Regions from separate parts of the Homo sapiens genome. Here all the other regions are linked to region 1. Evidence: fine-mapped expression QTL. A gene starts in region 1. Each other region holds a variant in brackets. All regions are shown on one strand. Distances are from middle to middle.

The links.
Region 2: its variant is fine-mapped to the expression of IL27RA in whole blood (TOPMed, PIP above 0.99).
Region 3: its variant is fine-mapped to the expression of IL27RA in whole blood (TOPMed, PIP above 0.99).

The regions. Positions count from the first base shown.
Region 1 is chr19:14,028,488-14,033,858 of GRCh38, forward strand. It overlaps IL27RA (interleukin 27 receptor subunit alpha), which reads left to right and starts at 3,275. Exons shown (of 14, transcript NM_004843.4): 1 at 3,275-3,485; 2 at 3,899-4,016. The coding sequence starts at 3,386. It overlaps RLN3 (relaxin 3), which reads left to right. Exons shown (of 2, transcript NM_080864.4): 2 at 2,223-3,064. The coding sequence ends at 2,461. RefSeq lists an enhancer at 438-487 and silencers at 3,054-3,183, 3,254-3,303, 3,314-3,433, 3,444-3,493.
Region 2 is chr19:13,984,757-13,989,756 of GRCh38, forward strand. The region is part of intron 2 of RFX1 (regulatory factor X1); the gene reads right to left. Among named protein-coding and RNA genes, the nearest start is that of RFX1, 19 kb to the right of the region's middle. RefSeq lists enhancers at 485-1,376, 1,403-1,452, 2,268-3,158. The variant C/T (reference allele first, on the strand shown) is at 1,882.
Region 3 is chr19:14,049,956-14,056,406 of GRCh38, forward strand. IL27RA (interleukin 27 receptor subunit alpha) reads left to right here. Exons shown (of 14, transcript NM_004843.4): 11 at 803-928; 12 at 1,652-1,745; 13 at 1,925-2,018; 14 at 2,141-3,263. The coding sequence ends at 2,335. PALM3 (paralemmin 3) reads right to left here. Exons shown (of 7, transcript NM_001145028.2): 6 at 5,425-5,470; 7 at 3,412-5,271. The coding sequence ends at 3,650. Among named protein-coding and RNA genes, the nearest start is that of PALM3, 8.9 kb to the right of the region's middle. RefSeq lists an enhancer at 6,145-6,451. The variant T/A (reference allele first, on the strand shown) is at 2,708.

The DNA of each region.
Region 1 (5,371 bases):
AGGAGGGTCCCTGTCCTGCCACATTCAGCCAGGGACACCTGCCCAGCCTTGAAACAAGGGCTCAGGAGTTAGCAGAGCTGCAGAGCTGGGATGGGGTGTTGCAAGCCATCCATGGGGGCTGGAAGTCTGAGGACAGGTGGGGGCGGGGAGCGTGCCATTTGCAAAGACAACACCGAAGTGTTTTCCAACCCTTTCCAGCAGGTAATGTGAAGGGTGTGGTATACACATAGCTGGGTTTGTCACCTAATGCATGACCTCTCCCCAGCAAGTTGGTTTTTCTTCCGTCTCTGAGTGTCTTTTTTTTGGAGATGTGGTCTCACTCCATTGCCCAGGCTTGAATGCAGTGGCCCAATCACTGCTCATTGCAGCCTCGACCTCCCAGGCTCAAGTGATTCTCCTGCCTCCGCCTCCAGAGTAGTTGAGACCACAGGCACCTGACACCATGCCTGGCTAGTTTTAAATTTTTTTTTTGTAGAAACAGGGGTCTCACTATGTTGCCTAGGCTGGTCTCGAACTCCTGGGCTCAAGTGATCCTCCCACCTCGGCCTCCCTAAGTGCTGAGATTAGAGTCTCTGAGTGTCTTTATCTTCAAATGGGAGACACAGTTCCTGAATCTTGCAGGATTAAGTGGTATGATTAAATCAAAACAGATTAGGGCAGAGTCTCAGCAGGGCAGCGGCACAATCTGGGATCCATCAGGAGAGTCAGAGGGAACAGAAGACCTAGCTTCATGAGGGGCAGGGACCTGGCAAATAGATATTCATGATGGTGAGAAGGAGGATAGGTATGAGCGTGGACATAGAAGACACACCACTTGGATTCAGATAGTAGCTCTACAATGTAATAGTTGTGTGTTCATGTGCTACTATTTTTTTTTTTTTTGAGACAGAATCTCATTCTGTTGCCCAGGCTGGAGTGCAGTGGTGCAATCTTGGCTCACTGTAACCTCCATCACCTGGGTTCAAGCGATTCTCGTGCCTCCAGCCTCCCAAGTAGCTGGGATTACAGATGTGTGCCACCATACCTCGCTAATCTTTTTATTTTTAGTAGAGACAGTTTCACCATGTTGGCCAGGCTGGTCTCCAACTCCTGACCTCAGGTGATCCTCCCACCTCAGCCTCCCAAAGTGCTGGGATTACAGGCATGAGCCACCGCGCCCAGCCATGCAAATTCTTTACTGAGTCCTGCCTCAGTGGTCTCCTCTGGAAAATACGGGTGATAACTGCACCCACCTCAACTGGTTATCACTGAGAAGAATAAAGAAGTTAACCTGCTAAAGCACTTAAAACGTTGTTTGACACAAAGTAAGTGATCAATAAATTATTATTATTATTATTATTATTATTATTATTATTTTTGAGACAGGGTCTTGCTCTGTTGCCCAGACTGGAGTGCAGTGGTGTGATCACAGCTCACTGCAGCTTCAACCTCTTGGGCTCAAGCAATTCTCCTGCCTCAGCCTCCTGAGTAGCTGGGACTACAGGCTTGTGCCAACATGTCTAACTTTTTATTATTTGTAGAGACAGGGTAGTGCTGTGTTGTCCAGGCTGTTCTTGAACTCCTGGTTCTGGTGATCCTCCAGCATGTGCCCCTGGAAGTGCTGGGATTACAGGTGTGAGACACCGTGCCCGGACTCAATAGTCATTTTTGAGTGCTCATCATGTTCCAGACATTGTTCTAAGTTTTTTTTTTTAATGAATATTAACTCCTTATAAAACTTGAGAAGGTTGGAGTAATTATTTTTTTCCACTTTGCAGAAAAGAACATTGAGGCTCCAAGAAGTAAATTTACTTGCTCACGATTAGAGAAGCTGGATTCATGCTCAGTCAGCCCAGCTCCCAAATGTACCAGGTCCTCAATTAATAAAGAGTAAGGAGAAATAAATGACAGGGCTGGGTGCGGTGGCTCACGCCTGTAATCCCAGCACTTTGGGTGGCTGAGGTGGGCACATCACTTGAGGTCAGGAGTTTGCGACCAGCCTGAACAACATGGTGAACCCCATCTCTATAACAATACAAAAATCAGCCAGGCCTGCTGGCAGACACCTGTAATCCCACCTACTCTGGCAGAGCCAGAATTTGAACCCAGGACTGGGTGGAATAAAAACTCTGAACTATGTCTATGACTGTTGTCACAAGATCAGAGCTAGACTGGCCAGGAGCCATGACTGTGGGTGCAGCAGCAGCTGAGCCCTGATCACTAACTCTGTTCATCTTTTGCAGGAGATACCTTCCCGGATGCAGATGCTGATGAAGACAGTCTGGCAGGCGAGCTGGATGAGGCCATGGGGTCCAGCGAGTGGCTGGCCCTGACCAAGTCACCCCAGGCCTTTTACAGGGGGCGACCCAGCTGGCAAGGAACCCCTGGGGTTCTTCGGGGCAGCCGAGATGTCCTGGCTGGCCTTTCCAGCAGCTGCTGCAAGTGGGGGTGTAGCAAAAGTGAAATCAGTAGCCTTTGCTAGTTTGAGGGCTGGGCAGCCGTGGGCACCAGGACCAATGCCCCAGTCCTGCCATCCACTCAACTAGTGTCTGGCTGGGCACCTGTCTTTCGAGCCTCACACATTCATTCATTCATCTACAAGTCACAGAGGCACTGTGGGCTCAGGCACAGTCTCCCGACACCACCTATCCAACCCTGCCCTTTGACCAGCCTATCATGACCCTGGCCCCTAAGGAAGCTGTGCCCCTGCCTGGTCAAGTGGGGACCCCCCCATCCTGACCCCTGACCTCTCCCCAGCCCTAACCATGCGTTTGCCTGGCCTACACACTCCACTGCCACAACTGGGTCCCTACTCTACCTAGGCTGGCCACACAGAGACCCCTGCCCCCTTCCCAGTCCAAACTGTGGCCATTGTCCCCTGACCAGCTAAAATCAAGCCTCTGTCTCAGTCCAGCCTTTGCACGCACGCTTCCTTTGCCCTGCTTTCCATCCCCTCTCCCTCCAACTCCCCTGCCAGAGTTCCAAGGCTGTGGACCCCAGAGAAGGTGGCAGGTGGCCCCCCTAGGAGAGCTCTGGGCACATTCGAATCTTCCCAAACTCCAATAATAAAAATTCGAAGACTTTGGCAGAGAGTGTGTGTGTGTGTGTATGGTTGTTGGGCGTAGGACAGGTTTCGGGGATGCGCGGTACGCGGTACCACCCCTCGGAGGCCCCCACCCCCAGACGCCCAGGCCGCCTCCCCACTCCCCCTCAAGCAGCCCCAGCCGGGGACTTTCCGTCGCGGGGAAGGGGCGGGGACCCTGAGCGAAAGGTGCGGAGGCGGCCTGCCGGGGTGGTTCGGCTTCCCGTTGCCGCCTCGGGCGCTGTACCCAGAGCTCGAAGAGGAGCAGCGCGGCCGCGCGGACCCGGCAAGGCTGGGCCGGACTCGGGGCTCCCGAGGGACGCCATGCGGGGAGGCAGGGGCGCCCCTTTCTGGCTGTGGCCGCTGCCCAAGCTGGCGCTGCTGCCTCTGTTGTGGGTGCTTTTCCAGCGGACGCGTCCCCAGGGTGAGTGCTGGAGGGAGCTCGTGTCCCGGGCGCTGCCGCTGCGCTCCCCGCGAAGGCGCCAGTGCTCCAGGATAAGCCACGCGTATGCAGAGCGAACGGTAGAGGTGCAGGCGCCACTCGGCTCCTCCCGGGGCAGGGACCCGGCGACACTGGGGAATGGGCGGCAGCGAGGTCGAACCGGAGCCCCGGGGCGGGGTGGGGGAGCTCTCTGGGTGGTTAACAGGATGTGGCGAGCACAGGGAAAGGGGGGGTTTGCACGGAGCCCGGGCAGGGGTGCCTAGCGCCTCCCTTCCTGCTGCTCATTTCCCTAAGCCCCCCCACCTTGCAATTGTCAGAAGTCCAAGTTCTGGGGTGTGCAGGCGGAAGGGGGGGATTCGACCCCCTTTCCTGAGACCCTCTGACTCCCTCTCCAGGCAGCGCCGGGCCACTGCAGTGCTACGGAGTTGGACCCTTGGGCGACTTGAACTGCTCGTGGGAGCCTCTTGGGGACCTGGGAGCCCCCTCCGAGTTACACCTCCAGAGCCAAAAGTAGTGAGTACAGGGAGGTGACGTGGGGAAACAGGCTTTGGAGGTGGCCGCTCAGGCCCCAGGCTGCTTTGGTTGAAAGGTTCCAGGAGTCAAGCCTGGCCAACATGGTGAAACCCTGTCTATACTAAAAATACAAAAAAAAAAAAAAAAAAAAAATTACCCAGGGGTGGTGGCGCGCGCCTGTAGTCCCTGATACTCAGGAGGCTGAGACAGGAGAATCGCTTGAACCCGGGAGGCGGAGGTTGCAGTAAGCCCAGATCTCGCCACTGCACTCCAGCCTGGGGGACAGAGGGAGACTCTGTCTCAAAAAAAAAAAAAAAAAAAAAGAAAAGAAAAGAAAAGAAAGTCCCAGGAGTCTGCCCCCCTCCCCCAATACTCCTCCACTCCTTCAATTCTAGCTTCCCTCGTTTCTTTGCTGTGTCACCCTGGGCAAGTCACTTTCCCTCTTTGAGTCTCCTTTTCATTTCTCTATTAAATAGCAATCATAGGGCCAGGAGAGGTGGTTTGCACCTGTCATCCCAGCATTTTGGGAGGCCGAGGCGGGAGGATCGCTTGAGCCCAGGAGGAGTTCAGAGTTTTAGAGAGCCCGTCACTTTTTTTTTTTTTTTTTTTTGAAACGGAGTTTCACTCTTGTTGCCCAGGCTGGAATGCAATGGTGTGGTCTCGGCTCACTGCAACCTCCACCTCCTGGGTTCAAGCGATTCTCCTGCCTCAGCCTCCAGAGTAGCTGGGATTACAGGCATGTGCCACCATGCCTGGCTAATTTTTGTATTTTTAGTAGAGGGGGGAGGTTTCACCATGTTGGCCAGGCTGGTCTTGAACTCCTGACCTCAGGTGATCCACCCGCCTCAGCCTCCCAAAGTTCTGGGATTACAGGTGTGAGCCACCGTGCCTGGCCGAGAGCCCGTCTCTTAAAAATATAAAATATAATATAAATAAAGGGAAATAGGCCAGGCGCAGTGGTTCACACCTATAATCCCAGCACTTTGAGAGGCCGAGGTGGGCAGATTACTTGAGGTCAGGAGTTCAAGACCAGCTGTAGTAATTCCAGCTACTCGGGAGGCTGAGGTGGGAGGATCACTTGAACCCAGGAGGCAGAGGTTGCGGTGAGCTAAGATCGTGCCATTGCACTCCAGCCTGGGTGACAGAGTGAGACTCTGTCTCAAAAAAATTTTAAAAAATAAAAGCTGGCGTGGTGGCTCACGCCTATAATCTCAGCACTTTGGGAGGCCGAGGCGGGCAGATCACGAGGTCAGGAGTTCGAGACCAGCCTGACCAACATGGTGAAACCCTGTCTCCACTAAAAATACAAAGATTAGCCGATGTGGTGGTGCATGCCTGTAATCCCAGTTACTCAG
Region 2 (5,000 bases), 44 kb before region 1:
CCCGGCAGGACTGAAGGGCCACGGGCAAGGAGTTATCACTGCAGACACTAGTGTTGCTTCTGGCACACTAGGTGTTATGTTAGACTCTGGACAGCCAGAGATAGAGCTTTTTTGTTTTTTTGAGACAGGGTTTCGCTCTGTCACCCAGGCTGGAGTGCAGTAGCACGATCTTGGCTCACTGCAACCTCTGTCCCCTGGGGTTCAAGCAATTATCCTGCCTCAGCCTCCCAAGTAGCTGGGACTACACGCATGCACCACCATGTCCGGCTAATTTTTGTATTTTTAATAGGGACTGGGGTCTTGCTATATTGCCCAGGCTGGTCTCGAACTCTTGGACTCAAGCAATCCACCTGCTTCCATCTCCCGAAGTGCCGGAATTACCGGCGTGAGCCACTGTGCCTGGCTGACAGTAAGAGCTTTCCGGGATTTTTTTTTTTTTTTGAGACAGGGTCTCACAGTTGCCCAGGCTGGAGTGCAGTGGCGCAATCTCTGCTCACTGAAATCTCCGCCTCCCGGTTCAAGTGATTCTCCTGCCTCAACCCACTGAGTAGCTAGGACTGCAGGCACCCGCCACCACGCCCAGCTAATTTTTGTGGTTTTAGTAGAGACGGGGTTTTGCCATGTTGGCCAGGCTGCTCTTGAACTCCTGGCTTCAAGTGATCCGCCCGCCTCGGTCTCTCAAAGTGCTGGGATTACAGGCATGAGCCACTGCACCTGGCTGACAGTAAGAGCTTTTATTACCCATTTTCAGACAAGGCAACAGAGACCAGAAGCAAGGAAGTGATCTGTCCAAGGTCAAATGCACCATCCACCGTGCAGGCCATGACGCAGGTTCCCCTCTGGGCCCACACGAACCTCATACCACATATGGAACCGGAGTCACTGGTTCTGCCTGGGCTGCGCCCCAAGGGCAGTGATGTGTGAACTTGGGTATATGGGCACAGGAAGGAAAGTAAGCTGGGGGTCTACGGGGACCCCTCAAAGTCTGAAGTATCCAGACTGGGTCTCGGCTGTCCAGGCAGGGCACAGGAGGGAGAGGGGCCTGGACAGGGCAGGAGGGCTATTCAGGGCAGATGCAAAGGCCAAGTCAAGGGCAGAGCGCAGGAGTGTGTGTTGGGGGCGGGGGTTGCCAGATGTGGGAGGTGTTGGGGGAGGCCTCCGCGTAGCCGCATGTGGGCTGTGGGGCATTTGGTCAATCCCATGCCTGCCTGACCAGCTACCTGTGCAGCCAATTCCACAGGCCCTAATCCCTGTGTTTTGCTGGAATCTTCCCTGGCATCTGCTTTAGGCTTCCCAGCCCTGAGCCATAAGGGAGGAGGCCCTTGCTGAGAGGGCCCCTCCTGGGAGAAACCCGAGACAGCCCCGAGTCATGTGACCGGCACTGCACACCTGGGTCCGTGGGGTCCAAGGACTCAGGCCCAGCCTAAGGGATGGTGTCTCACCCAGGAAGCTCAAGGTGGGCAGGGAGTGGGGGGCTGGCCCCCCACCCTCTCCAGGGCTCAGGGGCTGGTCGCTGAGCAGGACCTACAGCAGGAGGAGGCCTGGGGACCTGCTGAGACCAGGTGGCTGTCTCCAGGAAGCAGCCTTGCCCGTCTCCTGCCTCTGGGGTAGCCCTCAAGGCTGGGACCCCGCCTGCCAGCCCAGGAGGGCGCCAGGGGATGCGCCACGAGGCTAACAGGTGAGCCTGAGTGACTCATGCGGATGAGGGCTTCCTGTGCAGCCATCCCTGTCTGCCTGCGGCCGGGGCAGGGCCCCTCCACCACTGGGTCTGGCCCTCGCTGTGTTTCAGGGAGGAGAAGCCAGGAGGGGAAGTGGGGGGTGGCACTGAGTCTGCGAGCGAGCGTCTGCATCTATCTGCCGGAGATCGCCACTCTGGGCATG[C/T]GCAGGAGGCCAGGGAGGCCCCCACTGTCTCAGGAAACGGCGGCCGATTTCCTGTCTCTGAATCTGACACATTAACATCTCTGAGCAGTGGAATGACTCTGACAAGTGGGCACCCATCCTCCCCGGGCCCCGCACTTCCCCATCTAGACCTACTCAAACCTTAAATGAGCTACTTGGGGGAGCCCAGGGGAGGCCCTAGAGGCTGGACTCCTGGCATCCACCCTGGGGGCCTGGCCCCCTTCCCCATAGACAGATGGGGCCACCTGACCCTCTGCCTCCTGCCCCTGGGCTCCCTGGGATGATGTCAGTCAGGGGCTCCTGGAGGGGCCCCTGCTGCCCCCAGTGTCCTCTATCCCTTGTCTGCTCCAACCTCAGTTTCCCCATCTGTGCTTGGGAATGCTGACAAACACACTCCACTTCTCTGTCTGGACACAAGTCTTCTTGGCCCCCCTAGAACTCCAAGTGAGAGAGAAGCAGGGAAGAAGGGCCGGACTCGGCCCCTCCTTCGGGGCGGCCCCTGTTCCCTGCAGGCCGGCTCGGTTTCACCTTCCCAGGAGTGGCTGCCAGAGCCCACAGCACTCTCCTTCCGCCTTGGGTTCTGGGAGAGTCTGATGGCCTCTGAGGACAGGGATTTATGGATCTAGTATTGTTCCTGACCAGGGAAACTTGATCTTCCTTCCTACCACCTCCAAAGTCACCTTTAGGCAGGGCAGGCAGGGACCGGGGCTGGGTGAGCTGTGTCTGGTTTGGTGTCGGCTGGTGTCCAGCCCCAGGCTCCAAGTCTGGGTCCAGGCCCCTCCCTTCCTCTTCCCTGCCACCTCCCTGGGTCCCTGGTCAGCTCCGATTGCTCCTGGCTTGGGAGAAGTCCTAGGTGCCTTGTGGCAGCCTTCACTGGTGTCAGTTACTCCTGCTTCCCCGGCGCTCACGTGGCCCCGGCCACCCTTAGATGAGGAAGGACGCTAACCTGGCAGAGGGTCAGGGAGGAAGGCTGGGGAGTTACTGCAAGGGGTGGGGGAGGGGACAGCTGGCAGGGCACAAGCCAACCTCCTCTTCCTCAGAACAAATCCAGGAAGCATTGCCCAGTGACCCTTCTGGGGACAGGCTGGCACCTGCCAGAATGTGGAGTGGCAGGGAAATGAAATTCCCTGGGACCACTGTGAAAGGCGACTAAGCTACCGCCTGACCAAAGTGAGCCCCAGAGAGTTCTGTGGACAGCAGGGTTGCTACAGCCTGCCCTCATGGGTACAGAGTACCCTCCTGGGAACACTACCAAGATGGGGGAGACAGAGGCCACCTCCCCATGCCTAACAGCTACTTAGAGTCCGGCCTAGCTCTGTCTGACCCAAAGACCATGCCTTGCTCTTGACTTGCTCTTGACTTCTTGCTCTTTTTTTTTTTTTTTTTTTTGAGACAGAGTCTTGCTCTGTTACTCAGGCTGGAGCGCAATGACATGATCTCGACTCACTGCAACCTCCACCTCCCAGGTTCGAGCGATTCTCCTGCCCCAGCCTCCCCAGTAGCTGGTGCTACAGGCACACGCCAACACGCCGGGCTAATTTTTGTATTTTTATTAGAGACGGGGTTTCATCATGTTGGCCAGGCTGGTCTTGAACTCCTGACCTCAGGTGATCCGCCTGCCTCAGCCTCCCAAAGTGCGGGGACTTGGTCTTGACTTTGAAGCACCAGGGCCCCCCTGAGGGAGTGCGGGAAGAGCTGGAGAAGCCAAGGTCAAGAGTGGAAGGACTTGGGGAGTGGTGGAGCCTGGAGCTGTGTGCCCACTCCAGACCCTGGCTCTAGGGAGCCTGGACCCTGAAGCAGGTAAGACCCACACCCAGGGCGTGGATCAGGACCCATCAGACACTCTGGGCGCCAAGCAGAGCCATCCACTGGTGACATGCGAGGCCTCCTGCAAACAGTCAGCCATGCAGGAGCTGATGGGACATGATGGCTGTGCTAGGTGCTCCTCTAGGCTGTTCTGGGTCAGGCTGGTGCTCCTCAGTCATTCCACAGAGACTGAGCACTGACAGAGCCCTGCCTGCAGGTGGGCACCCCCACCATCCCATTATTGTAACTTCAAGTAGTGTTAAGTGTTAAGAAGACCAGCGGGGCGCAGTGGCTCACACCTATAATCCCAGCACTTTGGGAGGCCGAGGCAGGCAGATTACTTGAGGTAAGAAGTTTGAGACCAGCCTGGCCAACATGGCAAAACGCCATCTCTACCAAAAAATACAAAAATTACCCTGGTGTGGTGGTGCGCCCCTGTAATCCCAGCTACTCGGGAGGCTGAGGCAGGAGAATCGCTTGAACCCAGGAGGCAGAGGTTGCAGTGAACTGAGATCGCACCACTGCATCCGGCCTGGGTGACACAGCGAGACTTTGTCTCAAAAACAAACAAACAAGAAGACAGAGAGTGAGCAATGGGGGTAGGGGCAGGGAGGTGTGGAGTCAGAAAGGTAGTGTCTGAGCAGCGACCTAAGGGAGACAAGAGGCAAGCTCCCAGAGGGTCTGGGGCAGGGAGTGCTCCTGGCAGAGGGTACCGAGAGTGCAAAGGTCAGGAGGCAGGACTGAGCCTGGCGGGTTTGTGGAGCTGTAGGAAGGCAAGAGGGGCTGGACCAGGTATGTGAGGGGATGGGTGGAAGTGGGCGAGGCTGGGAGGCTGGCAGGCCAGAGTTGAAGGGGCTTGACATTTGCTAGTAGGGGCACAGGGTGTGTGGAGCATTTTTGCATTTTGTTTTTGTTTTTTTGTTTTTGAGACGGAGTTTCACTCTTGTTGCCCAGGCTGGAGTGCAATGGTGCAGTCTTGGCTCACTGCAACCTCCACCTCCTGGGTTCAAGCGATTCTCCTGCCTCAGCCTCCCAAGTAGCTGGGATTACGGCGCCCACCACCACACCCAGCTTAGAGAGAGAGAGAGAGAGACAGACAGACAGACAGACAGACAGACAGAGAGAAAGAGAGTGTGTGTCTGTGTGTGTAGCTTTTAAAGTCCTTTTTTGTCAGGTATCGGGGGAGGGGAAGGAGCCTGCTCTCCCAGAGCTGAGAAAGCCTAGGCTGGGGTTTCTCAAAGAGTGCCCATGGAACCACCTGGCTTGGAGCCATCAGGGTTGAGCTAGGATGTGAC
Region 3 (6,451 bases), 22 kb after region 1:
AGGCAGGCAGATCACTTGAGGTCAGGAGTTCGAGACCAGCCTGGCCAACATGGTGAAACCTCATCTCTACTAAAAATACAAAAATTAGCCAGGCATGGTGGCACAGCCTGTAGTCCAGCTACTCAGAAGGTGGCTGAGGCACTAGAATTGCTTGAATCCGGGAGGTGGAGGTTGCAGTGAGCCAAGATCATGCAAAGACAAACTAAATAATATCTAAGCAGTGTATGAGATGGTGATAAGTGCTGAGTAGAGAATGAAGCAAGGGGCTGGGCAAGGTGGCTCACACCTATAATCCCAGCACTTTTGGAGGCCGAGGTGGGCAGATCACCTGAGGTCAGGAGTTTGAGACCAGTCTGACCAATATGGTGAAACCCAGTCTCTACTAAAAATATAAAAATTAGCCAGATGTGGTGGCGGGCACCTGTAGTCCCAGCTACTCAGGAGGCTAAGACAGCAGAATTGCTTGAACCCAGGAGGCAGAGGTTGCAGTGAGCTGAGATCACATGACTGCACTCCATCCTGGGCAACAGAGTGTTACAGAGCGAGACTTCATGTCAAAAAAAAAAAAAAAAAAAGAGAATCAAACAAGGAAGGTGGGTGGTGAAGGGGGTGCAATTTCAAATAGAGCGGGGTCAAGGAAAGCCTCACGGAAGAGGTGACCTTTGAGCAAAGACCTAAAAGAGATGAGGAGGGAGCCATGTGGATACCTGGGAGAGAGTGTTGCAGACAGCAGGAAGAGCACATGCAAAGGCCCTGTGGTAGGCTTGACCACCTCCCCAACTTCTTTGGTTGTGTTCTCCAGTGAGTGGCAACACACAGAGTGTCACCCTGCCTGACCTTCCTTGGGGTCCCTGTGAGCTGTGGGTGACAGCATCTACCATCGCTGGACAGGGCCCTCCTGGTCCCATCCTCCGGCTTCATCTACCAGGTAGGGGGGTTGGGATGGGATTGCCACAGGGAGGGGATGTACTCCACAGTGGGGAGAGGTAGCATCTGGAGTCATTACTTGGAAGCTAGGTGCAGTGGCTCACCCCTGTAATCCTAACACTCTGGGAGGCTGAGGCAGGTGGATCACTTGAGCCCAGGAGCTCGAGACCAGCCTGGGCAACATAGTGAGACCCCCTTCTCTACAAAAAATAAAACAATTAGCTGGATGTGGTAGCATGCGCCTGCGGTCCCAGCTCCTGGAGAAGCTGAGGCTCGAGGATCGCTTGAGCCCAGGAGTTGGAGGCTGCAGTACACGGATTACACCACTGCGCTCCAGCCTGGGCAACAAAGCAAGACCCTGTCTTTAAAAAATTAAGAATTGCCAGGCACAGTGGCTCACGCCTGTAATCTCAGCACTTTGGGAGGCCGAGGCGGGTGGATCAGTTGAGGTCAGGAGTTCGAGACCAGCCTGGCCAATGTGGTGAAACCCCATCTCTACTAAAAATACAAAAATTAGCTGGGCGTGGTGGCGTGCGGCTGTAATCCCAGCTACTTGGGAGGCTGAGAGAGAATTGCTTGAACCCAGGAGGCGGAGGTTGCAGTGAGCTGAGGTCGCACCACTGCACTCCAGCCTGGGTGACAGGGCAAGACTCTGTCTCAAAAATAAAAATAAAAAATAAAATAAAATAAAAAATTAAGAATGATCTCTTCCCTACCCTACCAGATAACACCCTGAGGTGGAAAGTTCTGCCGGGCATCCTATTCTTGTGGGGCTTGTTCCTGTTGGGGTGTGGCCTGAGCCTGGCCACCTCTGGAAGGTGAGGCTGTCGGATACATGCATCTCTACCCACGTGGGGAAGGCAGCTGGGCATTTTGCTGAGCTTCCAGGGGGCTTGAAGGGAGGCCTCAGGGCGCAGTCACATTCATGAACCCTGCACCCTGGGCTGGGGCATCTGGCCATCTGGATCTGCTGCCCTGACTACTCCTGTCTTGCCAGGTGCTACCACCTAAGGCACAAAGTGCTGCCCCGCTGGGTCTGGGAGAAAGTTCCTGATCCTGCCAACAGCAGTTCAGGCCAGCCCCACATGGAGGTGAGTCAAAGGGCCGGCTAGTCGGAGCCCTCTGGGGGACTGGGGAGTCCTGGGGCAGTGGGGAGGGGGTGAGGTGTGGGTCGGGGAGGCTGGGGCAGGATTACAGGCTCATCTCTTCCCAGCAAGTACCTGAGGCCCAGCCCCTTGGGGACTTGCCCATCCTGGAAGTGGAGGAGATGGAGCCCCCGCCGGTTATGGAGTCCTCCCAGCCCGCCCAGGCCACCGCCCCGCTTGACTCTGGGTATGAGAAGCACTTCCTGCCCACACCTGAGGAGCTGGGCCTTCTGGGGCCCCCCAGGCCACAGGTTCTGGCCTGAACCACACGTCTGGCTGGGGGCTGCCAGCCAGGCTAGAGGGATGCTCATGCAGGTTGCACCCCAGTCCTGGATTAGCCCTCTTGATGGATGAAGACACTGAGGACTCAGAGAGGCTGAGTCACTTACCTGAGGACACCCAGCCAGGCAGAGCTGGGATTGAAGGACCCCTATAGAGAAGGGCTTGGCCCCCATGGGGAAGACACGGATGGAAGGTGGAGCAAAGGAAAATACATGAAATTGAGAGTGGCAGCTGCCTGCCAAAATCTGTTCCGCTGTAACAGAACTGAATTTGGACCCCAGCACAGTGGCTCACGCCTGTAATCCCAGCACTTTGGCAGGCCAAGGTGGAAGGATCACTTAGAGCTAGGAGTT[T/A]GAGACCAGCCTGGGCAATATAGCAAGACCCCTCACTACAAAAATAAAACATCAAAAACAAAAACAATTAGCTGGGCATGATGGCACACACCTGTAGTCCGAGCCACTTGGGAGGCTGAGGTGGGAGGATCGGTTGAGCCCAGGAGTTCGAAGCTGCAGGGACCTCTGATTGCACCACTGCACTCCAGGCTGGGTAACAGAATGAGACCTTATCTCAAAAATAAACAAACTAATAAAAAGCAAAAAAAAAAAAAAAAGAAAAGAAAAAACACTGCATTTGGGCACCATCTCAGCTCCCTTGCATCCAGGTGCAGCATGGACTGAGTTCTTGACAACAGAATGTGGTCAGAAGTGACATATGCCAACACGGGGTCTGGGTGGGGGCTCCCCCACATCCTTTCCTTGCCTATGAGCTGGAACATAACACATGCCTATGATCCAGCTTTGGTCATACCCAAGGGGAAGGTGGAGCAAGAAATGAAAAGGAACCTGAATCCCTGAATGACTGCATGGATAGAACCACTAAGAAAAATAAACTTTTATATTTTTATAGCTACTGTAGCTTTGAGGTCTTTTTGTTACAGCAGCTCAATCTATACTCTCACTGATTCATAATCTTTGACTGTAGCAGGGTTAAGCCTCAAATTTCCCACCAGGAGATGACGCTGTGATTCTGTGCTGACTACACACACATTCAAGCCGTCTTGAGTGCTTTCACATTTTATTTTCAAGTATAAAGGCTTCATCGCAGAAGGAGGCCAGGGTTACAGGCAGTGGGCAAGGGGTCTGGAAGCCCAGGTTTAGGTGGACGTGCAGGCTAGCTGGCTCCCAGGTGCCATGGCCAGTCCTGTGGTCCCTGTCTGTGCCTGGGACCCTCTTCTGGGTGCCAAGAGGCCGAGGTAGCTGTGAGAGGAGCTGGACATGGGGTGGAGGGGCATGGGTTCACATGACCGCACAACACTGGCACGTCTTTTGCTTAGGGCCACTTGCCTCTTCACCCTCGGTGGGGGCAGATGGCTCAGGCTGCCGGGCAGGCGCGTAGGTGGGCACAGGGTGGGCACTGGGGTTGGCGCTGGGCCCCTCCCCCTGAAGCAGTGGCTGGCATTCGGCGGGCTGCTCTGGGGCTGGGGTCTCTGCCAGAAGAGGTGTGGCATCCCCCAAGGGGCCTTGGCCCTCAGCAGCGGTTTGGGGCTTCACTCCTTCCTCCTCCAGGGCTCCTACTGGCTTCTCCTGGGGCTGGGGTCCTTCCTTCTCTGGCCTTGTCTCCGTGTTAGCCTCAAGGGGAGGCCCTGCCTCATTCATCTCCTCTGCCTGGGATTCACTTCCTTCCCTAGACCCTTGTTCTAGATTCAGATCTCCCTCCGTCCCTTGGGTCTTCTCTGTCTCCAATGATTCCTCACCTCCCCTTTTCTCTGCCTCCAGTGTCTCCTCCCCTCCCTTTCTCTCTGCCTCCAGTGGTTCTTTGGTTGCCTCTGGCTCTTCCTCACCTCCTTTCTTCTCTACTCCCAATGGTTCTTCTACCTCCTCCTCCTCTGCCCCTCGCTTTTCCTCATCTCCTTCCTTCTCTGCCCTCAAATGTCCCTCAACTTTTCTCTCTATGCCCAGTGGTTCCTCACCTCCTTCCCTCTCTGTTCCCAGCTTTTCTGCACTTCCTCTGCTCTCCAGCTCCAACTTCTTCTCTCCTCCTTTCCTCTCTACCACTGGTGACATCTCCGCTTCATCCCTCCCTGTCCCTGGCTTTTCCTCACTTCCTATTCCCATGGATTCTTCCGCTTTTCTCTTCTCTGCCTCCCAGGTCTCCTCGCCTCCTCCCGTCTTGGCCCCCTCGGCCCCCAGCGGGCTTTCATCTCCTCTCTCCCTCCCTGCCACCTCGGGCCCTTCCAACCCCTCCACCAGCAGCTCCTCCCACTCTTCACTGAGGGTCACTCTCTCCACCCAAATGAAGGATCCCTCCTCTCCTCCAGAGCCTCCCTGCCCATCACCCTCAGGGCTGCCCTGGGGCACATCTTCCCCTTCTATGGAAGCTGCTGCCTCTAATCTCTCCTGGAGCCTAGGCGAGCTAGTCTGCACGACCTCAGGGACCCTGCCTATCTCCCCCATGGCCTCTGCATCACTGCCACCCACCCCCTCCCAGACCACCTCCACGATGCCCCTGTCCTCCTTCACCCAGGCCGGGAGCTCCAGGCTACCAGCTCCCTTCCTGTCTCCGATGGCTTCCAGCACCACTTCCTCCACCTTAGCCTCCAGCTCGGGGCCCGTGGCCCCTGTGGCACAGTCCTCTGTGGCCCTCAGCCCTTCCCACACCACACTCACCACGCCCCCTCCTTTGGCCTCACCCACCCGCCCTTCGGATGGCACTGCCCTCTGACTTAGCCCCTGCTCTGGAGTGGGGATGGGGCTGGGGCATGGGCCATTGGCTTCTGAGGAGTCTCCTGCTGCCCCGGGGACCTGCCTCGGGCCTGGCAGAAACCCCAAGACATCCTCCCTGGGCTCAGAGGGGGACTCTGGAGGCGTGCCCACTAGTCCAGCCGGCAGGGAGGCTCTCTTGTTCAGATCAGTCTGGCCTGGGGGAGTCAGAGGTGGAGGGGAGAGGACAAAAGGGAAGACAGGGTTAAGATGGAACAAAAGGACTGCCATCCACACTCCCCTTGAGTCACCCTCTCACACCCAGGCTCTGGGGTGACCTGACCCCCAGACCTAGGGGCTCCCACACTTACCTACAGAACCTGCCTCGACAATGGACTGGGAGAGAGGACGGTGACCCTGCAGAGATGGCGGAGACAAGGTCAGGCTGGCCCTCATCCCCACCTCCAGCCTCCCTGCATGCTAGGCTCCCACCCCACCACCCCTAAATACCCTCAGTGGCTCTCTATTACCTTCAGGATCAAACTCCACATTGTACCTCTGCCTTCCTCATCTATCTTATTGCCCTATGTTCCAGGGCCTTGCACACAGTAGGTGCTTAAACAATACTGCATTCCCATAGCCAATCTGTATTAGGGGCCTACTTTGTCAGTTACTGGTTACCATGCACAAGGGACACTTAAGCCTTTTGTTTTTGGCACTTACATTCCAATCAACATAAATACAAATTAATTTTTTTTTTGAGATGGAGTCTTGCTGTGTCGCCCAGGCTGGAGTGCAGTGGCGTAATCTCGGCTCACTGCAACGTTCGCCTCCTGGTTTCAAACGATTTCCCTGTCTCAGCCTCCCTAGTAGCTGGGACTACAGGCACCTGCCAGCATGCCCAGCTAATTTTTGTTTGAGACAGAGTCTCACTCTGTTGCCCAGGCTGGAGTGCAGTGGTGTGATCTCAGCTCACTGCAACCTCTGTCTCCAGGGTTCAAGTGATTCTCCTACCTCAACCTCCCCAGTAGCTGGGACTACAGGGACACACCACCATACCGAGCTAATTTTTGTGTTTTTAGTAGAGATGGGGTTTCACCATGTTGGCCAGGCTGGTCTCCAATTCCTAACCTTAAGTGATCCGCCCACCTCGGCCTCCCAAAGTTCTGGGATTACAGGCGTGAGCCACCATGCCTGGCCTATACTGTTGTTATTCCCATTTTAGAGATGGGAAAACTAAGGCTTGGAAAAGGAAATTGACTTGCCAAGACCACAGAGCAAAGTAAAAGCGGGAAGCGGATCTGAATGCAGACCTAGTGGCCAGGCTGCCCTTGGAGAAAGCTGCATTCCTGATTCCATGTCCTGCCTTGAGGCCTGCTGGCCATGCCCTCCCATCCC